Linked DNA regions of Homo sapiens. The protein of the gene in region 3 purifies or fractionates together with the protein of the main gene of each other region. This does not show direct contact. Each region holds a gene or a part of one and is shown on either strand. Other genes may lie near its edges.

Region 1 (7,457 bases), about 47 Mb from region 3:
TGTAGCCCCAGCTACTCGGGAGGCTGAGGCAGGAGAATGGCATGAACCTGGGAGGTGGAGTTTGCAGTGAGCCGAAATCGAGCCACTGCACTCCAGCCTGGGTGACAGAGCCAGACTCTGTCTCCAGAAAAAAAAAAAAAAAAAAAAAAAAAAGTGAAGTATGAAGTTATCCAAGTATCTGATGATCGACTTTTCTGTTAGTGAACTGGCCATATGCTGCATACACTCAGTGCAGATTTCAGGAGAAATCCAGCCAAGGCCGGCCGGGCGTGGTGGCTCACACCTGTAATCCCAGCACTTTGTGAGGCCAAGGCGGGCGCATCATGAGGTCAGGAGGAGATCAAGACCATCCTGGCTAACACGGTGAAACCCCTTCTTTACTAAAAATACAAAAAAATTAGCCGGGCGTGGTGGCAGGCGCCTGTAGTCCCAGCTACTTGGAAGGCTGAGGCAGGAGAATGGCATGAACCTGGGGGGCGGAGCTTGCAGTGAGCGGACATCGCGCCACTGCACTCCAGCGTGGGCAACAGAGCGAGACTCCATCTCAAACAAACAAACAAAAAATCCAGCCAAGGCCTGATAGAACAAGACAGCACTTTCCTGCAAGAACCATCGGACAGAGAGGGTGAAGCTCCAGCATGTCCAGCAGCACCAACACTTACTTCTCTTTCTGTGTCCAGACCGGGTGTGAGTTTTCCAGTCCAAGGGTGTCATCCTGAGTGAAAGGAGCCTCAAGTTTGCTGGCCATGCTAGGACTTAGAATCCTGTGCGTCTGTGGATCCCGCAGAGGTGTCTGAAAAGTCACCTGTTGCGGAGTGAGGAGGAGAGCACCTATTCATTAGTTCAAGCTGTTACAGCCACACCAGCAGTGTCCTGCAGCTCAGAGGTCACCAAGAAAGCAGGCCCTAGGGCAACCTGGCCAGCCACACACTGTACAGGTCACACTTACCTTCATAGCTTTGGCCAGGTTCTTGGGTGGCACATTTTCTTTCTGTGACACACGAAGAACAGACGATCTTCCGGTAACTTCTGGTGGCGAAAACAGGAAGTCGCAATTTTCTGTATTTTTTTCATTGCTGACATTTTTGTCGTTTAAGACCTGCAGACTCATTCTGGAAAAGCAGAACATGTTTGTGTCAGTGTGAGGGCAACACTACCACATTGTCCAGACACAGACGTGACAGCTGCTGCAAGGGGCACGACCACTTCCCACACAGGTGTGCTCATTGCTCTGGAACTCACACCTCCCACACGTGTCTCTTGGCAGAGAAAGCCTCAGACTGAGTCCCCATCTTGCTTCAGAGACTCACTCTCCAGCCTGGCAGGGGGAGCCATGGGCAGCACTGCTGCTTCCTGGGACCAAGAGCTAAAGGGCCTTCAGGCTGAGATGGTGAGAAAGAAAACCCAAGCCTGCATAATCTCTACTGCTGTATTACTATATCAAGCAGAAGTCAAGAGACGGAAAAGCCCGGGCCAATAAGAAACCCGGATGAGCCAGAGGAAGCCCTGGTCTCCCCACAGGCCTCTGCGTGTGACGTGAGGCAGGACCGGGCAGTAGAGGGCAGAAAAGCAGGACAGCGGCTCTGGTCTGCTCTCTCCCACCGGGCTAGGCAGCGGGACAAGACCAGGCTGAGAGGGTGAAGGCCCAGAGGAGGAGCTGGGAGACGATGCGCAAACAAGGGAAGCCCAGAGCTGAGCAACAGGTGCCAAGGAACTTCCACATCAGAGCCTCCAGTCAGTCCCAGGTTCCAGGGCTGCCCAGGTCCTCACGCCGGTCACCCACACACTTGCCACCCTTTCTGTCTACAGCGTTCCCAGTCTAGGGAATGACGTAGGGAAAAAGGCTGCCAGAGAGAACCGAGTGTCGACCAGGGCAGGAACCCCACAGGCACCTGGTGGTGGAGGGGGACCTGGGGAGGCTTTGATTTGAAGAAGAGCAAAGTTGGGGAGGGTCCTGGAGAAGAGAGAGGGGGCAGCCCCGGCAGGTCGGTGCTGCAGCTTGAGAAGCCCACTGTGGTGCTGTGTGTGGGTGGGGAGGTTAAGAGCAGAAGGGAAGCAGGGAAACCACAGGCTTCTGGAGCCCAAGGAGTAGATGCCAGACCAGACCCGGGCCTGGCCACTGGCACATATGGGACTTACGGACGACGCTTAGGTTTTCGCCCTGAATAACTGGGTACAGGGCAGGGGAAGGGGTGCTGGATCGCTGGGGGACCCGCAAGCCTCGAACTCAGGGAGAAAGTGACTCGGAGGAAGCCTTCTGGCGGCCTGGAGGAGCTCGGGAGAGCAGCAGACCCAGCCTTAGTCAGGAGGGGCCTTTACTGACTATGGAGGCCCGGGAGGGGCTCTGGGCAGAGAAGGGACCGGCCCCAGGCTGGTGCTTTGGTGCTACTCTGGTGCACAAGAGGGATGCGGTGCGGGGGGAAGGTGGAGCGGCGCAGCAGGTGCGGGGAAGCGGTAGGGGCCCAGGTGTCCGCCGCAGGCGGCCTAGATGGAGTTGGCCCCAGGACGGAGGCCGGAAGGGACCAAAGAACAACAGGAGGGTCCGCGTGCTGGGAGCCAACAAAGAGCCAAGGTGGGCGACCGAGAGACAGGAGAGGGTCGAGGAGAGCAAAGCACCTCGGGGCGCCCGCTCCGCCGTCGGTCTTGGCCCAGCTCTAGCCGCCCCTGGCCACCATCCAGGGGGCCCAGCCCGGCGGTCGGTCTAGGGCCGGGTCCCATGACAGGGCGCGGTACAGGTTCTGGCGGCGGCCCCAGGAGGAGCCGTGGGGGACGCTTCCCGGGGAAAGCGGCGGCCGGGGCGGGAGGGCGAGGGCCGAGGGCGGGGCGGGGCGGGACGGCCTCGCGCCCCCAGGACCCCAGCCTCCCCGCGCCGTGTAGCCGCTCTCCTACCTGCCCGCCCGCCCGTTGCCGGGCTCTGAGCCCGCGCCGCCGCCGCCAGGAAGGAGGGGTCCGCGTCTGCTCCACGCCGGGGGCCAAGCCTAGCTGCTACCGCCGTCGCGCTTCTAGCCCTTGATGGCCGCCGGCGCGCCGGAGTTTCAAACGCCGACGGTTGCCTTCGCGCGGCCAATCAGCGCGCGGCCGGGGGCAGGACCGCAGGAGGGCGGGCGTCCAATGGGAAGCTGTGCCTCGCCGGCTCCGCCCTCCCTCCCCCCCCACCCCCCGCTCGGGCGCCGACGGTTCCGTTTCCGGAGTGGAGGGCACGCCAGGGTGTCTGAAGCTGAGACCCCGGGCTCGCAGTCGCCCCATGAATTTCGAGTTCCGCAACTGACGCTACTGGGCGGGGCTTCATGGCCAGGGCCTCGCTCAGGCCTAAGTTTCCCCACCTGTGCTCAATGCACAGGTGCGGTGCCGCCTCCAGGGCCGGCCGAGAAGAGAGGCCGCACCCGCACGGGGACTGCATCTCCCAGAGCGCCCCGCGAGCGGCCGAGCGGCGGGACTCCATGCCCTAGAGTGCCCCGCGGGCGGCCGGGCGGCGGGACTCCATGTCCTAGAGTGCCCCGCGGGCGGCCGGGCGGCGGGACTCCATGTCCTAGAGTGCCCCGCGGGCGGCCGGGCGGCGGGACTCCATGTCCTAGAGTGCCCCGCGGGCGGCCGGGCGGCGGCCGCCGCAACCGACAGGTCCGGGACTGGGCGCTGCGGCCTCGTCCGCGCGCCGGGGCGGGGGCCTAGCTCGACAGCTTCCCGGCGGCTGCGCGATGGACAGCCCCGAGGTGACCTTCACTCTCGCCTATCTGGTGTTCGCCGTGTGCTTCGTGTTCACGCCCAACGAGTTCCACGCGGCGGGGCTCACGGTGCAGAACCTGCTGTCGGGCTGGCTGGGCAGCGAGGACGCCGCCTTCGTGCCCTTCCACTTGCGCCGCACGGCCGCCACGCTGTTGTGCCACTCGCTGCTGCCGCTCGGTGAGGCTGCTCGGGCCGGCCGGCCGCATCCTCTCCTGCGCAGGGCTTGCTGGGAGGTCAGGAGGAGGCCTCCGCCAGCTCCCCGAGGCCCCGAAAGCGCCTGGGCGCAGCTGGGGAGAGGCGCCGGTCCTCATCCAGAGGGACCGCGGCGTGGGCTGAGCGCGCTTAGGGGCGCCGCCGGCACTGACTTGCAGGTGACGGGAACCCAAGTTCAGAACCTTGGGCAAGGGATGCTCCGGCCCACCAAGTCCTGAACCGTCACGTGCCTGGGGGTTGCAAGGCCAAGCAGCCCTTGCTTGTCGTGGTTGGGGGCAGTGGCCAGGAGAAGGCAACTGTTGATTGAGTCCAACGGAAGGGGTCGGAGGGGCTGTGTGGAGGGTGGCACTGCACTAGGCCTTGGAAGGTGGGTGTGGAGAGAACAGGCGGATTTGGAGGCAGTTCCAGTTTGGGGGCGCCACAGGGGCAGAGGCTGGGGAGGGCCTCTGTGCAGTGCAGGTGGGACGCTCAGAGTTGTCCAGGGGGGTGCTGGGCTGGGCCCCAGGTGCTAGCTGGGGCTCTGGAAGGTCCCTCTCTCAGCTGATTGGATGACGGACAGGTGGGAGGTGGGGTGTGCAGTGGCTGGAGGGGGATTTCAAGGGGGTACCTCTGGAGGACACGGGGGCAGACGCAGCCCTGGGAGGACAGATGGCCAGTGGCTGGCCAGGTTTGCCACTCTGGGGATACAAGAGGGGTGACCCTCCACATCCTGGTTTGAGGATGCAGCTGCCTGGGCCCAGAAGAACTGGAGGCAGGTGTCGGGTGGAGGCGCCCAGGCCTGCCTCATGGAGAGGGTGGGCTGGGGGCCCACTTGAGAGATGGATGGGGCTGAGTGGGGCTGGGGCCCTGACCAGGCCACTTTCTAGGGCTACTGGGTGGGTTTCTGTAGCCCTTCCAGCTGCACCCTCCCCAGAGGCCTATGAGGGACCACAAGTGAATTGTGGCAGCCACACCTGGAGCAGACAGCACAGCTGGCCTCACAGTCGGATGTCAAGCTCTTTTTATTTTTAACTTAGTTTGAAAGTTTTCAAGCTTTATTAGGTATTAGTTACCTGTTTTATTTTTATTTTTACTTTTTGAGACGGAGCCTCGCTCTGTCACCCAGGCTGGAGTGCAGTGGCATGATCTCGGCTCACTGCAACTTCGGCCTCCTGAGTAGCTGGGACTACAGGCGCCCGCCACCACGCCCGGCTAATTTTTTGTATTTTTTAGTGGAGATGGGGTTTCACCGTGTTAGCCAGGATGGTCTCGATCTGACCTCGTGATCCGTCCGCCTCGGCTTCCCAAAGTGCTGGGATTACAGGTGTGAGCCACTGCACCCGGCCCCTAGTTACCTATTGTTATATGTCATGTTACCTTGAAATGCAGTGACTGGGCCAACTCCAAATGTGGACTATTACTTTTTGCCAACTGGAACCTGCTGGTGCAACTCCTCACCATCTCCATGGCTTATTTGGACCTTCAAATTGTCCTCGATCTGGCCAGCAGGGCCCTGAAGCTGGCTCCGTGTCCTCTGGACATGTCCCATCATTCTTTGAGACTTGCTTCCTTTCTCGCACATAACTTTTCAGCTCTGGGATGCACCACATTTGATCAGCCTCCTCAGAGCGGGTGAGATTGAGAGACTGAGATCCTGTCCAGGCAGCTGCCCTGGCAGGCCAGGGGTCAGCTCTGCCTGAGGTGACACCTGATTGTGTTTATTTTTCCCTTTCTAGGCTTTTGTAGTTTTTTCAACACTTACGTATTGTGTGAAACTAAAGCAGCAAATTAAAAACCTTTTCCGCTAATATATCCTGCCTTTGCCACAGGCAGGGAGAGAGTGGCCGGCTGGGGAAGTGCAGAGTGGGTAAAGCCCAATTACCCTGGGAGCTGACCCTGGAACCCGGGCAGAGGGCCAGGTCCAGGGCTGTCGGGGGGTGGACAGCGGCCTGCCACTCACTTTCCCCTGAGGCTCACCCTGTCCTTTGCAGGCTACTATGTGGGCATGTGCCTTGCGGCTTCAGAAAAGCGGCTCCACGCCCTCAGCCAGGCCCCTGAGGCCTGGCGGCTCTTCCTGCTGCTGGCCGTGACCCTCCCCTCCATCGCCTGCATCCTGATCTACTACTGGTCCCGTGACCGGTGGGCCTGCCACCCACTGGCGCGCACCCTGGCCCTCTACGCCCTCCCACAGTCTGGCTGGCAGGCTGTTGCCTCCTCTGTCAACACTGAGTTCCGGCGGATTGACAAGTTTGCCACCGGTGCACCAGGTGCCCGTGTGATTGTGACAGACACGTGGGTGATGAAGGTAACCACCTACCGAGTGCACGTGGCCCAGCAGCAGGACGTGCACCTGACTGTGACGGAGTCTCGGCAGCATGAGCTCTCGCCAGACTCGAACTTGCCCGTGCAGCTCCTCACCATCCGTGTGGCCAGCACCAACCCTGCTGTGCAGGCCTTTGACATCTGGTAAGAGTGTGGTGCCTGTGGGGCTGCGGAGGGCACATGGCAGGCCAGAGCCAGGCTCTGGTGCCACGACCCCTGGGAGGTGCTGGGTGTAGCTGGTGTGGACTCCAACACTCCTGGGCTTGTGTGACACCAGGCAAGGTGTCCACAAGACACCAGTCACTGAGCCCTCCCGCATAGCCCTCCCTCGGGTCCCCCTGCACTCTTGGCCTCCCCTTCCACTCCCTGGAGCCACCTCCCCCAGATTCTTGGGGAGCACTCAGGACAGTGCAGCCCTCAGGCTGGACAGCTGCCTTGCTCCTAGGTCCGTCCCGTGCCCAGGCTGGGCTGTCTGGCACTGGGTCCGTGGGCTCTGGCCTTAGGGCCATCTCTCCTGGTTGGTCCTGGTGCGACAGCTGCCCTGTCACTCCTTGGGGTGTAGCCTCCATCTTCCGCTCCCTTTGCCCTGCAGAGGGGCCCAGCAGCTCTCCTCCCTGCAGGCTGAACTCCACTGAGTACGGGGAGCTCTGCGAGAAGCTCCGGGCACCCATCCGCAGGGCAGCCCATGTGGTCATCCACCAGAGCCTGGGCGACCTGTTCCTGGAGACATTTGCCTCCCTGGTAGAGGTCAACCCGGCCTACTCAGTGCCCAGCAGCCAGGTGGGGGGCCTGGGCCAGGGCCGGGTGGATGGGTGGGTGCCCACGGGTGTCTGCCTGGGCTCCTGGTGACGCTCCACCTGCCCGCAGGAGCTGGAGGCCTGCATAGGCTGCATGCAGACACGTGCCAGCGTGAAGCTGGTGAAGACCTGCCAGGAGGCAGCCACAGGCGAGTGCCAGCAGTGTTACTGCCGCCCCATGTGGTGCCTCACCTGCATGGGCAAGTGGTTCGCCAGCCGCCAGGACCCCCTGCGCCCTGACACCTGGCTGGCCAGCCGCGTGCCCTGCCCCACCTGCCGCGCACGCTTCTGCATCCTGGATGTGTGCACCGTGCGCTGAGTGGGCTGGGGCCTTGAGGTGACTCTGTGTCTCCCCCCAAAGCCACAGGGCAGGGAAGGGGGTGGCTGGGCCTCCTGGCTGGCAAAGGGCTCTACTTAAAGCAC
Region 2 (7,841 bases), on a different chromosome or scaffold from region 3:
CTGTGGTACGCTACACATATTCTACACATGGAGGAAAACACATTTTCACTGAAGAGATATAGATCAGTGGAATTTTTTGGTAATGCAAATACAATCAAATCAAAATTTAGATTGGAAATGAAATAACATGAAGTACTAATCTCACAAATATTTGTAACGAAAAGTGATTATGAAAGTAAATCGTCAGAACTGCAACCTATATCACATATTTGTATTGGAAAATATTAGTGTATTCAGAATAAATTGTTATTTAAAAAAATTTAAGTACCAATCAAAGGCTGACACACTGGGTAGGATAAAAAAATTTTAAAACTCCTGGAATAAATTATATTACAAAGGTATCACTAGAAATATTCAAGCATAAATGGAATGTAGACAAAAATGAAATATTCTGATACATATTTGAGAAAATGCGGTAAGAGAAAATATTATTCATAAAGCACAAAAGGAAAATGAAAACGTAATAACCCACCTTCCTAGAGTGGTCCCCTCCAATAGACTGATCTTCCCCGTCCACATCTACCATTGGGCATGGTGGAAGGCTGGGGCTGAAGGCCATGAGGTCCGCCTTGGGCAGGCCCTCCCCAGAACACACCCTCTGCCGCCTCTGCTGCGAGTAAGACCAGCTCCCCACCGCGCTAGAGCACACCAGCGTGGGCTTCACCGGCCCACATGCGCCCTCGGTGGGCGCCGCCGAGCACCTCAGTGCAGTGTACAGCAGCAGCGTGAGCACCAGCAAGCTGGACACCGCGCAGATGGCGATGATCAGGTACACGTTGACATCCACCAGGGCCACCTCGGGCGCCACGCCCACTGAAGCCCGCGACGAGGCCTTGGGTGCCTGGCTGCCCTCCACAAGCGACACAAGCACAGTGGCCGTGGCCGTCAGCGACGGCTCGCCATGGTCCTTCACCAGCACCAGTAGGCGCTGGCGTGGCGAGTCAGTCTCATCCAGAGCGCGCGTCGTACTGATCTCGCCCGTGTACAGCCCCACGCGAAACGGGATGCGTGCACCAACCGCCGCCGACTGCAATTCATACGACAGCCACGCGTTGTATCCAGAGTCAGCGTCCACTGCGCGCACCTTAGCCACCACGTGACCCGCAACCACCGACCGCAGCACCAGCTCACTGACTGCACCGCCCGCGCTGCCAGCGGGAGACGCCAGCAGCGCGGGAGCGTTGTCGTTCTCGTCCAGCACGAACACCTGCAGCGTCAAGTTGCTGCCCAGAGGCGGCACGCCCCCATCGCGCGCGCTCACCTGGAACTGTAGCAGCTCCAGCTCCTCGTGGTCCAGCGGCTGCAGCGCGTACACCTTGCCGCTCTCCGCGTGCACCGACACGTAGCTCGACAGCGAGCGCTCGCCCAACCGCCGCTCCACCAGAGAGTAGGACACCAGGGCGTTCTCCTGCGCGTCCGCGTCCCACGCAGACACCGTGAAGATGTGGCAGCCTGGCGGGTTGTTCTCCTTCACGAACACCGTGTACTCGGACTGCGCGAACGCAGGCGCGTTGTCGTTCACGTCGGCCACCTCCACAGACACGCTGGCCGTGGCCCACAGCGGAGGCGAGCCCCCGTCCCGCGCGGTCACCACCAGCTCATAGGCCGACACCCTCTCGCGGTCCAGAGCGCTGTCCAGCACCAATGAGTAGTAATTCTTGTAGGTGGACACCAGCTTGAACGGAACGTGAGGCGTCAGAGAGCAGGTGACCTGTCCGTTGGCTCCTGAATCATGGTCAGAAACGCTGATTAGGGCAATGACGGTGCCCACTTGAGCATCTTCTTTCACTGGGAGAGACAGAGAAGTGACAATCACCTCAGGTGAATTATCATTTTCATCCAGTAGTTCCACTAGGACCGTGCAGTGACCAACCATAGGTGGGTTTCCCTTATCTGTAACATCTACATGAATTTCATAAGTGTTACTGTCCTCAAAGTCAATAGCATCATTTACTTTTATTTCTCCCGTCCTTTCGTTTATCCAAAATTTCCTTCTTATCGTGGGTGGGACCAAAGAGCTAAATGAATACATCATTTCCTTGTTTATTCCTTCATCCGAATCAGAAGCGTTGAGCCGTATTACTAATGTTTGGTTCACTTGATTTTCATACATCTTAACTTCATAAACCGGTCTGTCAAAGATAGGGGCGTTATCATTGGCATCTAACACCAGGATCAGCAGAGAAACAGATCCGGTAAATTCAGGTTTGCCTCCATCAGTTGCTGTCAACAACAACTTTAGCTGAGGATTTTCTTCACGATCCAGCAGCTTCCGCAGAACAAGCACTGGGAATTTGTCTTTGTCTTTTTTGTTTATAATATCAAGAACAAAATACTCATTTGGACTGAGTTTGTAAGTAAGCAATGCGTTCTCTCCAACATCCGCATCAGATGCGCCTTCTAGTGGAAATCGAGAGTCAAGCAGTCTGGATTCAGGTATTGAGAGCTTTTGTTCTGTTACGGAGAACCTGGGCGGGTTGTCGTTAATGTCCTTCACTTCCACGTCCACATGGAAAACCTGCAGCGGCCTGTCCACGATCACCTCCAGGTGGATGCTGCACTCCACGCTCCGCCCGCACAGCTCCTCGCGGTCAATCCGAGAATTCACAAACAAAATGCCATTCTGCAGATTTACCTCCAGAAGGTCCCCGTGTCTTTTGGACGCCACCCGGAACAGGCGCTGCACCAGCTCCGCCAGCTCCAGCCCCAGGTCCTGCGCGATGCGGCCCACGAAGGTGCCGTGTCTGGCCTCCTCGTAGACTGAGTAGTGGAGCTGGCCGCTCCCCACCTCCCAGGCTGCGAGGAGAAGAAGCGAGAGCAGCAGACACTGGACCCCCAGGCAGCTACATCTGGAAACCATCTTATCCTTCTCTTGTTTTACAAATCGACGAATCAGCGGTCTAGAACGCACATACGATCTGACATTTTCTGTCCTATTTCTTATATCTATTTTTTATCGAAATGGCTGAGATCTCAGAATGACGCTACTTCCTAGTCCTTGAGAAACTGGCTGATGCCTTTGTTCTAAAAAGCTATTTTGTGGACGACAGCGACATCCGGTGGCTTTAGGTGTAAGTACGATTCCATGAGTTCACAACTTTTCTTTCATTCATATGTTAATTCTTTTTTTACGTATTTTTATGTCTATGGACTTTCAAAGCCTCACATTACGTCTCTTTATAGTTAATAACAATAAATGTTGATCCCACGTGCAATGTTTTCTTAAATGTAGACTCTCAGAGTAGTGATTTCTTCCCTAACCACATGATTATCAATAGCCGAATTTCAAAATGCCCTTAATATTTGCATACTACTGAGTATACTAATATTTTATTAAATGACAACTTTAGTTCCATTTAAGTTCTGACACTTAACTTACTTCTCTTTCTCATTATTTTGAGATTTAATAAGGTTTATTTAGACACTAATGTCAAGCATCAACTATCTGTGAGGTGTTTATAACTCCGAAGATCTAGTCATCACTAGAATTTAGAGATCATTAGCTTCAACATCAGACATTTCTCCATTTAGATTCCTATTATCCTACTCACTAGCCACATGACTTGGGAAAATCGTTTAACCTCTCCCTCCCTCATGTTCCAATTTTATAACTTTGGCCTAATAGTAATACGGTGGTTGAGTGAATTATAATATAGTAAGTGCTTGCAATAGTACCTTAAGGAGAATGAGTGCTTCATAAATGGAAACTATTCTCAGGCCTCAATTTGGCCACATTTGTTTTCATGAGGCTCAATACCAAATTTGGCTCATCAGGCAAAATTATTACCTATAGAATGCCTTAATTATTGCTACTGCACAGGCTGAGAGTGGTGGTTTCTGTATTTAAGAAAACAGAAAAGTACTATTACAGAAAAATCCTTTATACAAGAAGTTTCATTTTATAATATCTTACACGGGCAAAAAGAATCTTAATTATAATTCTGAATAAAGTAATTAAGAAATTTATTATTTCTGCTTTCAGAGGCAAATGCTTTCAACCCTGTTATATTTACGCTTTTCAAATGCCCAAAAGACACAGTTCTGAAATATATCTAGTAATTTTATCAATGTCAGTGAAGTTTTTCATCACCACTTGCAGTAAAAATATTTTTTTCTCTCTCAAAGTTCTTGAAATCAAATATTCAGGAATGAAAATGTAATATATCTGTGCTGCTGAAAAAAACTTGAGTTTTCTGTCTTTCCAAGAAAGGAAAACTTAACAACAGACATATTGGTCTTATGCAAGGGTTAATTTATTTTATTTAATGATGTTTTGACTTTTCTAAAGAATATTTTTAAATGTGTCAATTACTTTAAACTTTTTTTATTAAAATCTGAATGACAGAGCAACAATATTTATGAATAAGAAAACTGACAGAAATGGGTGTCACTTAATCCATCAGTTTATGTGTCCTACTAAATTCTGTTTCTATACTTCTCTACTCCTCTGGAATGCCTCTTGCATCAAAATTCATTCAAATTCTGATTTTAGAGATTACTTTTTTATAAACCCTGAATTAAAATGTAATGAGTTATGTATCAAAATATCAACGTTTGTTTTAGCTATCTGGAGCGTAAAATAAGTTTGCCATTGATCAATCATCTCCACGCACAAAATAATAAAAACTAAACTCAATTTCTACTAATGTACATTTTATACCAAGTGATAACATAAATATCCCAATGTAGATGTCCAATATTGAATAAAAAGTAGGGAGTAGTTAAACTACTCTTTTTTTTTTTTTTTTTGAGACAGAATCTTGCTGTCACCCGGGCTGAAATGCAGTTGTGCCATCACAGTTCACTGCAGCCTCAATGTCCCAGGCTCAAGCGATTCTCTCGCCTCAGCCTCCTGAGTAATTGGGACTAGAGATGTGTGCCACCATGCCCGGCTAATTTTTTTTTTTTGGCAGAGATGAGTCTCACTACATTGGTCTCAAACTGCTGGGCTCAAGGAAGGGACCCTCCCACCTTGGCCTCCCAAAATGTTGGGATTGCAGGTGTCAGGCCACCACATCTTTTTAAATTACAGAAACTTGCACTGTCAAGTATCAAATAGGGCTATGGATCTAAAATTTCGGTTGTATGAGAATCATCTCAGGTGTGCTTTAAAATGAAAATTTGCTCTTACTACCCATTTCAGAATTTCTGAGGTGGAGCCTTGAACCAGAACATTCAATGAGGACTTAGGTGCTGCTAATGCTAATGCGTTAGCAGGTCTAAGGATAGGTTGACCATAGGCCCCAATTTGTCTGGAACAGGCTCAATTTAGGTCTGTGATCTTGTATACTTATTTACAGCACCCCCTTTGCTCTCAAAGTGTCTAAGATATTGGGTGACAACTTAGTTTTTCCTATATAGTAATTACAACTTGAAAAGAGACATAGGAGGAGCTTCATTATTGTTTCATGATTCTAACTTGAATTGAGGAATGTTAACTACAGATGCATATAAGGAGACCTATTAGGCAAAATAGGAAAGTGTCTCTTCTGCTTTCACCTCTCTGTTTTGAACTTGACAGGCTGTTTTGAATTTTACCATCTCTGGATCCCTGTGAGTTCATGTTTGCTAATGACCTCAAAAGATAAATTTATTACTAAGGTGTTCACAGCCCTTCTGAGAATTTGCATATGATGAGAGCTTGTACTCTGAGAGAGAATAGAGATTAATATGAAGGACTAAATTACCAATCCCATCAATACAGCCGTCAATAATAAAGAACACATTTTAGGCCAGGCGCGGTGGCTCACGCCTGTAATCCCAGCATTTTGGGAGGCTGAGGCGGGAGGATCATGAGGTCAGGAGATCGAGACCATCCTGACTAACACGGTGAAACCCCATCTCTACTAAAAATACAAAAAAATTAGGCGGGCATGGTGGCAGGCGCCTGTAGTCCCAGCTACTCGGGAGGCTGAGGCAGGAGAATGGCGTGAACACGGGAGGGGGAGCTTGGAGTGAGCCAAGATGGCACCACTGCACTCCAGCCTGGGCAACAGAGCGAGACTCTGACTCAAAAAAAAAAATACGTTTTATGATTATTGATGACATAGTAAATGCTTAGTAAGTACTAGCTCTAAGGAGACTGGAGGACTTAGGGCGGGAGACAAATGACATCTGTAGCATCCCTCTATTCACATCAAATAATCAGATACCTGGGTCCAAGTTTAAATGGCACATGAAACTTGAAAAACGTGCAAAGACAAAGATACTTGAAAGTATAAGACTATATTCAAGGTGAGTTGTGCTGATAGACAGATATAGATAGGTTTAATGACAGGAGCTCAGAGACCACTCAAGTTTTGAAAGAAAATGACAAAAAAAAAAAATAAAAAAGCCTTGGCACAGTGGCTCACAGCTTTAATCCCAGCACTTTGGGAGGCCGAGGTGGGAGCATCACAAGGTCAGGAGTTCGAGACCAACCTGGCCAACATGATGAAACCCCATCTCTACTAAAAATACAAAAATTAGCTGGGCGCGGTGGCATGTGCCTATAATCCCAGCTACTCAGGAGGCTGAGGCAGGAGAATTGCTTGAACCCAGGAGGCAGACGTTGCAGTGAGCCAAGATCATGCCACTGTACTCCAGCCTGGGTGGCAGAAAACGACTCCGTCTCAGAAAAATAAAAAGACAAAAAACATGTAATATTGTAGCATATTCCAAAAGTGTGTTTTAAGGGAAAATTTAAAAATTAAAATATTTTGTTTTAAATAAACGTTACTGGCATTTTCATAGTTATTTTTGTGGCTCTATTCTCAAGGCCATTCTGATCTTTCTCTACTGAGTTTTTAATTAGGTCATACCTTGTAAAATATCTGACACAATATTAAATAAAATAGCTGAAAGAGAAAGAAAAATATAAACCACATAACAAAAACTCAATAAGCGAAGTTTTTAAAACTATAAATTAGAAAACAAACAAATAGCTTGCACTAAAGGTAGAGTGTGGAAAACCACCATTTTGAAAGTCACATACTACAATTCAGGAAACATAACATGTAGTGACATTAAAGAGGCAAATCTCATATCCAGATTTCTGCCTTGTGTTATGTATGAGCTGAGAGGAGAAAAAGATATTTTTAAAAAAACAGATTTCTGTCTTATGGATTACTGACAGAACAAGTGAATTCTCATCTAAATTCATAAGGGTAATGTTTTAAGTTACAGACTCTGAATTTCAAAAGAACTCGAAGTTTCGAATCTTCACATGGCTGATCATTTTATCACTGAATGGAGAAAATTTCAATTAAAAGGAGAATGTCTTCTTGAAGAAAGGAAACACTTGTTTAAAAAGCATTTTCTCCAATTTCTGTAAACTGAATTTCAAAAAATGTTCTAAGTGTAGACAAAATTTCAGTCAACATTTCTTGAATTATCTACATTGTCAGGCATTTTAAAACATATTTTATATAAGTTGAAATGAAGGCTGTGTTTATAACATTTATTGACATAATTTGATTCCTAAAGTGGAGCAACTGTTTTCTAAAGTTTAGGGGAAGTTTCTTTCTTATTAAAATAATAGATACTGAAGGTTGCTGAACAATCAGATGTTCACAGTCTCCATCCAGAGAAATGTAGAGAACTACAAACTTAACAAGGTAACAATTGCTATATATTTTTGCTTGGGTTTCTTATAAACAATACAAGTAGACTAAAATACTATGCATCATTTAGCAATAAATAAATGATAGTGATGTTAATGTTTAATGAATGACTAACAACTAAATTGGTTTTCAAGTGTTATGGCAGCATAGCATCAGAAATTCAATGTCACTTTAATCACAAATTTAAATAAAATTGATTCAGCACCCAAAAAATATCTATTTAATATACAGTTTATAATT
Region 3 (7,020 bases):
TTTCTTTTCAAGCAATGCAATTGGTGTGGTATTTTTTTTTTTTTTTTTTTTATTATACTCTAAGTTTTAGGGTACATGTGCACATTGTGCAGGTTAGTTACATATGTATACATGTGCCATGCTGGTGCGCTGCACCCACTAATGTGTCATCTAGCATTAGGTATATCTCCCAATGCTATCCCTCCCCCCTCCCCCGACCCCACCACAGTCCCCAGAGTGTGATATTCCCCTTCCTGTGTCCATGTGATCTCATTGTTCAATTCCCACCTATGAGTGAGAATATGCGGTGTTTGGTTTTTTGTTCTTGCGATAGTTTACTGAGAATGATGGTTTCCAATTTCATCCATGTCCCTACAAAGGATATGAACTCATCATTTTTTATGGCTGCATAGTATTCCATGGTGTATATGTGCCACATTTTCTTAATCCAGTCTATCATTGTTGGACATTTGGGTTGGTTCCAAGTCTTTGCTATTGTGAATAGTGCCGCAATAAACATACGTGTGCATGTGTCTTTATAGCAGCATGATTTATAGTCCTTTGGGTATATACCCAGTAATGGGATGGCTGGGTCAAATGGTATTTCTAGTTCTAGATCCCTGAGGAATCGCCACACTGACTTCCACAATGGTTGAACTAGTTTACAGTCCCACCAACAGTGTAAAAGTGTTCCTATTTCTCCACATCCTCTCCAGCACCTGTTGTTTCCTGACTTTTTAATGATAGCCATTCTAACTGGTGTGAGATGATATCTCATAGTGGTTTTGATTTGCATTTCTCTGATGGCCAGTGATGATGAGCATTTCTTCATGTGTTTTTTGGCTGCATAAATGTCTTCTTTTGAGAAGTGTCTGTTCATATCCTTCACCCACTTTTTGATGGGGTTGTTTGTTTTTTTCTTGTAAATTTGTTTGAGTTCATTGTAGATTCTGGATATTAGCCCTTTGTCAGATGAGTAGGTTGCGAAAATTTTCTCCCATGTTGTAGGTTGCCTGTTCACTCTGATGGTAGTTTCTTTTGCTGTGCAGAAGCTCTTTAGTTTCATTAGATCCCATTTGTCAATTTTGGCTTTTGTTGCCATTGCTTTTGGTGTTTTGGACATGAAGTCCTTGCCCACGCCTGTGTCCTGAATGGTAATGCCTAGGTTTTCTTCTAGGGTTTTTATGGTTTTAGGTCTAACGTTTAAATCTTTAATCCATCTTGAATTGATTTTTGTATAAGGTGTAAGGAAGGGATCCAGTTTCAGCTTTCTACATATGGCTAGCCAGTTTTCCCAGCACCATTTATTAAATAGGGAATCCTTTCCCCATTGCTTGTTTTTCTCAGGTTTGTCAAAGATCAGATAGTTGTAGATATGCGGCATTATTTCTGAGGGCTCTGTTCTGTTCCATTGATCTATATCTCTGTTTTGGTACCAGTAGCATGCTGTTTTGGTTACTGTAGCCTTGTAGTATAGTTTGAAGTCAGGTAGTGTGATGCCTCCAGCTTTGTTCTTTTGGCTTAGGATTGACTTGGCGATGCGGGCTCTTTTTTGGTTCCATATGAACTTTAAGGTAGTTTTTTCCAATTCTGTGAAGAAAGTCATTGGTAGCTTGATGGGGATGGCATTGAATCTGTAAATTACCTTGGGCAGTATGGCCATTTTCACGATATTGATTCTTCCTACCCATGAGCATGGAATGTTCTTCCATTTGTTTGTGTCCTCTTTTATTTCCTTGAGCAGTGGTTTGTAGTTCTCCTTGAAGAGGTCCTTCACATCCCTTGTAAGTTGGATTCCTAGGTATTTTATTCTCTTTGAAGCAATTGTGAATGGGAGTTCACCCATGATTTGGCTCTCTGTTTGTCTGTTGTTGGTGTATAAGAATGCTTGTGATTTTTGTACATTGATTTTGTATCCTGAGACTTTGCTGAAGTTGCTTATCAGCTTAAGGAGATTTTGGGCTGAGACGATGGGGTTTTCTAGATAAACAATCATGTCGTCTGCAAACAGGGACAATTTGACTTCCTCTTTTCCTAATTGAATACCCTTTATTTCCTTCTCCTGCCTGATTGCCCTGGCCAGAACTTCCAACACTATGTTGAATAGGAGCGGTGAGAGAGGGCATCCCTGTCTTGTGCCAGTTTTCAAACTATCTCTCAGACCACAGTGCAATCAAACTAGAACTCAGGATTAAAAATCTCACTCAAAGCCGCTCAACTACATGGAAACTGAACAACCTGCTCCTGAATGACTACTGGGTACATAACGAAATGAAGGCAGAAATAAAGATGTTCTTTGAAACCAACGAGAACAAAGACACCACATACCAGAATCTCTGGGACGCATTCAAAGCAGTGTGTAGAGGGAAATTTATAGCACTAAATGCCTACAAGAGAAAGCAGGAAAGATCCAAAATTGACACCCTAACATCACAATTAAAAGAACTAGAAAAGCAAGAGCAAACACATTCAAAAGCTAGCAGAAGGCAAGAAATAACTAAAATCAGAGCAGAACTGAAGGAAATAGAGACACAAAAAACCCTTCAAAAAATCAATGAATCCAGGAGCTGGTTTTTTGAAAGGATCAACAAAATTGATAGACCGCTAGCAAGACTAATAAAAAAAGAGAGAAGAATCAAATAGACACAATAAAAAATGATAAAGGGGATATCACCACCGATCCCACAGAAATACAAACTACCATCAGAGAATACTACAAACACCTCTACGCAAATAAACTAGAAAATCTAGAAGAAATGGATAAATTCCTCGACACATACACTCTCCCAAGACTAAACCAGGAAGAAGTTGAATCTCTGAATAGACCAATAACAGGCTCTGAAATTGTGGCAATAATCAATAGTTTACCAACCAAAAAGAGTCCAGGACCAGATGGATTCACAGCCGAATTCTACCAGAGGTACAAGGAGGAACTGGTACCATTCCTTCTGAAACTATTCCAATCAATAGAAAAAGAGGGAATCCTCCCTAACTGATTTTATGAGGCCAGCATCATTCTGATACCAAAGCCGGGCAGAGACACAACCAAAAAAGAGAATTTTAGACCAATATCCTTGATGAACATTGATGCAAAAATCCTCAATAAAATACTGGCAAACCGAATCCAGCAGCACATCAAAAAGCTTACCCACCATGATCAAGTGGGCTTCATCCCTGGGATGCAAGGCTGGTTCAATATACGCAAATCAATAAATGTAATCCAGCATATAAACAGAGCCAAAGACAAAAACCACATGATTATCTCAATAGATGCAGAAAAAGCCTTTGACAAAATTCAACAACCCTTCATGCTAAAAACTCTCAATAAATTAGGTATTGATGGGATGTATTTCAAAATAATAAGAGCTATCTATGGTGTGGTATTTTTAATCTTGATTTCTAATGTTCGTTGCTGGCATATAGAAACATAGTCAGTGTTTGTATTTTTATCCAGTTCTGTGACCTTACTGAATTCACTTATTATTTCTAGAAGTGTGTGTGTGTGTAGATTCATTGGGATTTTCTGTGTAGACAACCATGGGGACAGTTTCTAACCTCTGTGCCTTTTATTATTATTTCTTCTTCTTCTTCTTCCTCTTCCTCCTCTTCCTCCCTCCTTCCTCCTTCTTTCTCCTTCCTCCTTCTTTCTCCTTCCTTCTCCCTCTTCTTCTTTTTTTTTTTTCTTGTTTATTGCACTGGCTAGAATTAGTGGTAAGAGCGTATGTTCTTGTCTTGTTCCTGGTCTTAGGGGAGATGCATTCAATCTTTCTTCATTAAGTATAATGTTAACTGTAGGGTTTTTGTAGATGTTCTTTATGAGGTTGAGGAAATTTTCCCTATTTCTGTTTTTCGGAGAACTTTTTTCATGACTGTGTTGAATTTTGTCAGATGCTTTTTTTGAGTCCGCTGTTACAATTCTGTGATTTTTCTTCATCCTGTTACTGTGGATTACACTGATTGATTTTCAAATATTGAACCAACCTTGCATCTTGGAATAAATCCTCCTTAGTCATGGCATATAAATCTATTTATATATTGCTGGATTCTATTTTCTAATATTTTTTTAAGGATTTTTACATCTATATTTGTAAACAATATTGATCCGAAGTTTTCTTTTTTGATACTGTCCTTTTCTAGTTTTGGTATCTCAGTAATACTGGCTTCATAAAATGAATTGGGACATGTTCTTTCCTATTTTGTGACGGAGATTATGTTGAATTTGTGTTCATTCTTAAACATTTGGTGGAATTTCCCAAGGTTGCTCCCAACCTCCAACAAACATTTGTTCTGCTGCTTGTTACCATAAATTAGATATGACTTTCCTCAAATTTCTTTATAACACAACATTCTACAGTGTGTGTGTGTGTATGTACACACGGACTGTTTTGTGTCTGGCACTCATTTCATTCAGCAAAATTTTTGATATTCATCTTTGTTCTATACATCAGTAGTTTACTCCTTTTTACTGCTGAGCGGTATTCTGTTGCGTGGATATGCTACAAATTGTTTATCCATTCATGTGTTGATGGACATTTGAGCTTTTTTCAGTCTTTGGCTGTTACAAAGTTGTAGTCAAGTCTTTGTGTGGACATAAGCTTTTTTCTGTTTTCCTTTTTTTTTTTGAGACAGAGTCTCGCTCTGTTGCCCAGGCTGGAATGCAGTACCGCGATCCCCGCTTATTGCAACCTCCGCCTCCTGGGTTCAAGCAGTTCTCCTGCCTCAGCCTCCCAAGTAGCTGGGACTACAAGCATGCACCACCACCCCCAACTAATTTTTGTATTTTTAGTAGAGATGGGTTTTTCACCATGTTGGCCAGGCAGGTCCCGAACTCCTGACCTCAGGTGATCCGCCCGCCTCGGACTCCCAAAGTGCTGGGATTACAGGTGTGAGTTACCACGCCTGATCTTCTTTTTTCTTTTTGAAGCAGAGTCTTGCTCTGTCACCCAGGCCGGAGTGCAGTGGCATCATCTCGGCTCACTGCAGCCTCTGCATCTCTGGTTCAGGCAGTTCTCCTGCTTCAGTTTTGAGTAGTTGGGATTATGGGTGCATGTCACCATGCCCAGCTGCCTTTTTGTTTGTTTTTTCATCATGTTGTGCTTTGTGAAGCACAGCAATGGAAGCACTTTTTAAAAATGATTTTTAGTTTCTAAATTTTTAGTTACAGTGTCAGTAATATGGGATTTGGACATAGAGCCTCCAGATACTTGATACATGTTTACGTGAATGTTTCTTTTCAGGGGAAATACATTTCAAATTCTAGACAACAGTTGGGTAGTCAACCTGTTTTTCACCTCTAGAATGTTTGTTCATATGTGGCCCACATTAGTTGCTACTGTGAGACAGAATCCTGCAGTGCCTTTTCTCTTCTGGTATTATGGATTCCAAGCTGGCCTATTTAAAATACTGTTGTCAAAGACAGTTGTAATCCTCTAAGTACTTGGTCATTTAGAACTCACAGTTACTTTTTTTCTTTTAGTAGCCCAGGAATAGCTTTTATTGTTTGCATTGCTGTGAAGTTTCCTGAATACACATGTACTAGTGCCCAATCATCAGTTGTAATTTAAAGCAATGGTTTCATATATACAGATTTCCACTCAAAAATTGGTTTTTCTTTGCCATCCCACAGTACCTTCTCCAGGCAAATTCCGTTCCCCTGCAGCACCATCTCCTTTGGCTCTTCGGCAACCAGTGAAAGCATTTAGTAACCATGGCTCTGGTTCTCCTGGTAGCCAAGAAATAACACAGCTCACACAAACCACCTCCTCACCTGGGCCTCCTATGGTTCAGAGCACAGTCTCAGCAAATCCTCCCAGCAATATCAACAGCGCTACTCTAACCAGACCTGCAGGGACAACTGCAATGAGAAGTGGCTTGCCCAGACCCAGTGCCCCTTCTGCTGGGGGCATACCAGTGCCTCGCAGCAAACTTGCACAGCCTGTTCGCAGGTAAGTGGCAGATGTTCTGTTTCAGCATTCTTGAGTGCCTGAAAGTGGATAGACTGGAATGAATTAGCTTCATCCGTATGTTTGATAGTAAACAGAAAGTCATGGTGGATTCCCACCAGAGTTTTAGTACCATTTGAATAAAACTTTACTACATTGTTTTTAAGAAATCCTCATTTGGGACTTTTACCAGTTTGGTTCAGATTAAATTTGTCCAGTTGCCTAACGTGATTAAGCATCTCAGAGGACCCCTAGAAAAAAAATTGTTAGAGCCTCTCAATTTGATTGTGATATTCATTCATTTCGAATATAATTATATTCAATAAAGATGATAAAGGTATATTAGAATATAGAGTGATATTTAAGATAAAACTTCTAGCTACCAAGTCTGAGTATAATCTATAAGCATGGTTTTCAAACCCTTATTCTATAATTCAGAATTATCTGTGAGATTTATATAAATGTAGGGTGTAAGTTTTACCTTCAGAGAGTCTAACTTAGTAGATCTGTTATGAGGCCCAGAATCTGTGGGTGTGCTAGGTATTTTGTTGTTGTTTTTTGTTTTGTTTTTGTTTTTGTTTTGTTTTTGTTTTGAGATGGGGTCTTGCTTTGTCTCCCAGGCTGGAGTGCGGTGGTGCAATCTTGGCTCACTGCAGCCTTGACCTCCCAGGCTCAAGCAATCCTGTCACCTCAGCACCCCCTGTAGCTGGGACTACAGGCGCACACCACCATGCCTGGCTAATTTTTGTAGAGATGGGGTTTTACCATGTTGCCCAGGCTTGTCTGGAGCTCCTGAGTTCAAGTGATCTGCTTGCCTCAGCCTCCCAGAATGCTGGGATTACAGTTGCTGGTTTTTTTGTTTGTTTGTTGTTTGTTTGCGTAATCTTCAGATGATTCTGAATCAGACAGGTTGGGAATGATGCATCTGTAACCTTTCAAGAATGGGATTACCACCATCAGTAAACTTTGGTGTCAAATATAATTAAACTGGAAATATTTATCACTGTGCTAAATAAGTAAATGCTTGCTTTGTTTAATCTTCATAATAATATTAAATGAGTAGGTATTCTTATTTCTATTTTTCAAAAGAGGATATTGA

What was found. Proteins that work in one complex are often made in the same cells at the same time.
Region 1: the proteins of SLAIN2 (region 3) and TACC3 purify together in Homo sapiens (co-immunoprecipitation; 4 studies listed by BioGRID and IntAct, with this or other methods). This does not show direct contact.
Region 2: the proteins of SLAIN2 (region 3) and PCDHA10 purify together in Homo sapiens (affinity purification with mass spectrometry; 2 studies listed by BioGRID and IntAct, with this or other methods). This does not show direct contact.

The regions. Positions count from the first base shown.
Region 1 is NC_000004.12:1,717,076-1,724,532, reverse strand, and holds the start of TACC3 (transforming acidic coiled-coil-containing protein 3), read right to left. Parts: upstream 3,013-7,457; 5' UTR 2,890-3,012; exon of another isoform or gene 2,617-2,889; intron 1,113-2,616; 5' UTR 1,112-1,112; coding exon 950-1,111; intron 832-949; exon of another isoform or gene 806-831; coding exon 663-805; intron 1-662. Other genes in the region: TMEM129 (E3 ubiquitin-protein ligase TM129), read left to right, coding at 3,696-3,900, 5,907-6,381, 6,858-7,017, 7,105-7,353. UniProt on the Homo sapiens protein: Plays a role in the microtubule-dependent coupling of the nucleus and the centrosome. Involved in the processes that regulate centrosome-mediated interkinetic nuclear migration (INM) of neural progenitors.
Region 2 is NC_000005.10:140,851,068-140,858,908, reverse strand, and holds the start of PCDHA10 (protocadherin alpha-10 isoform 1 precursor), read right to left. Parts: upstream 3,013-7,841; 5' UTR 2,861-3,012; coding exon 473-2,860; coding exon of another isoform or gene 326-472; exon of another isoform or gene 1-325.
Region 3 is NC_000004.12:48,414,520-48,421,539, forward strand, and holds part of SLAIN2 (SLAIN motif-containing protein 2), read left to right. Parts: intron 1-5,605; coding exon 5,606-5,924; intron 5,925-7,020.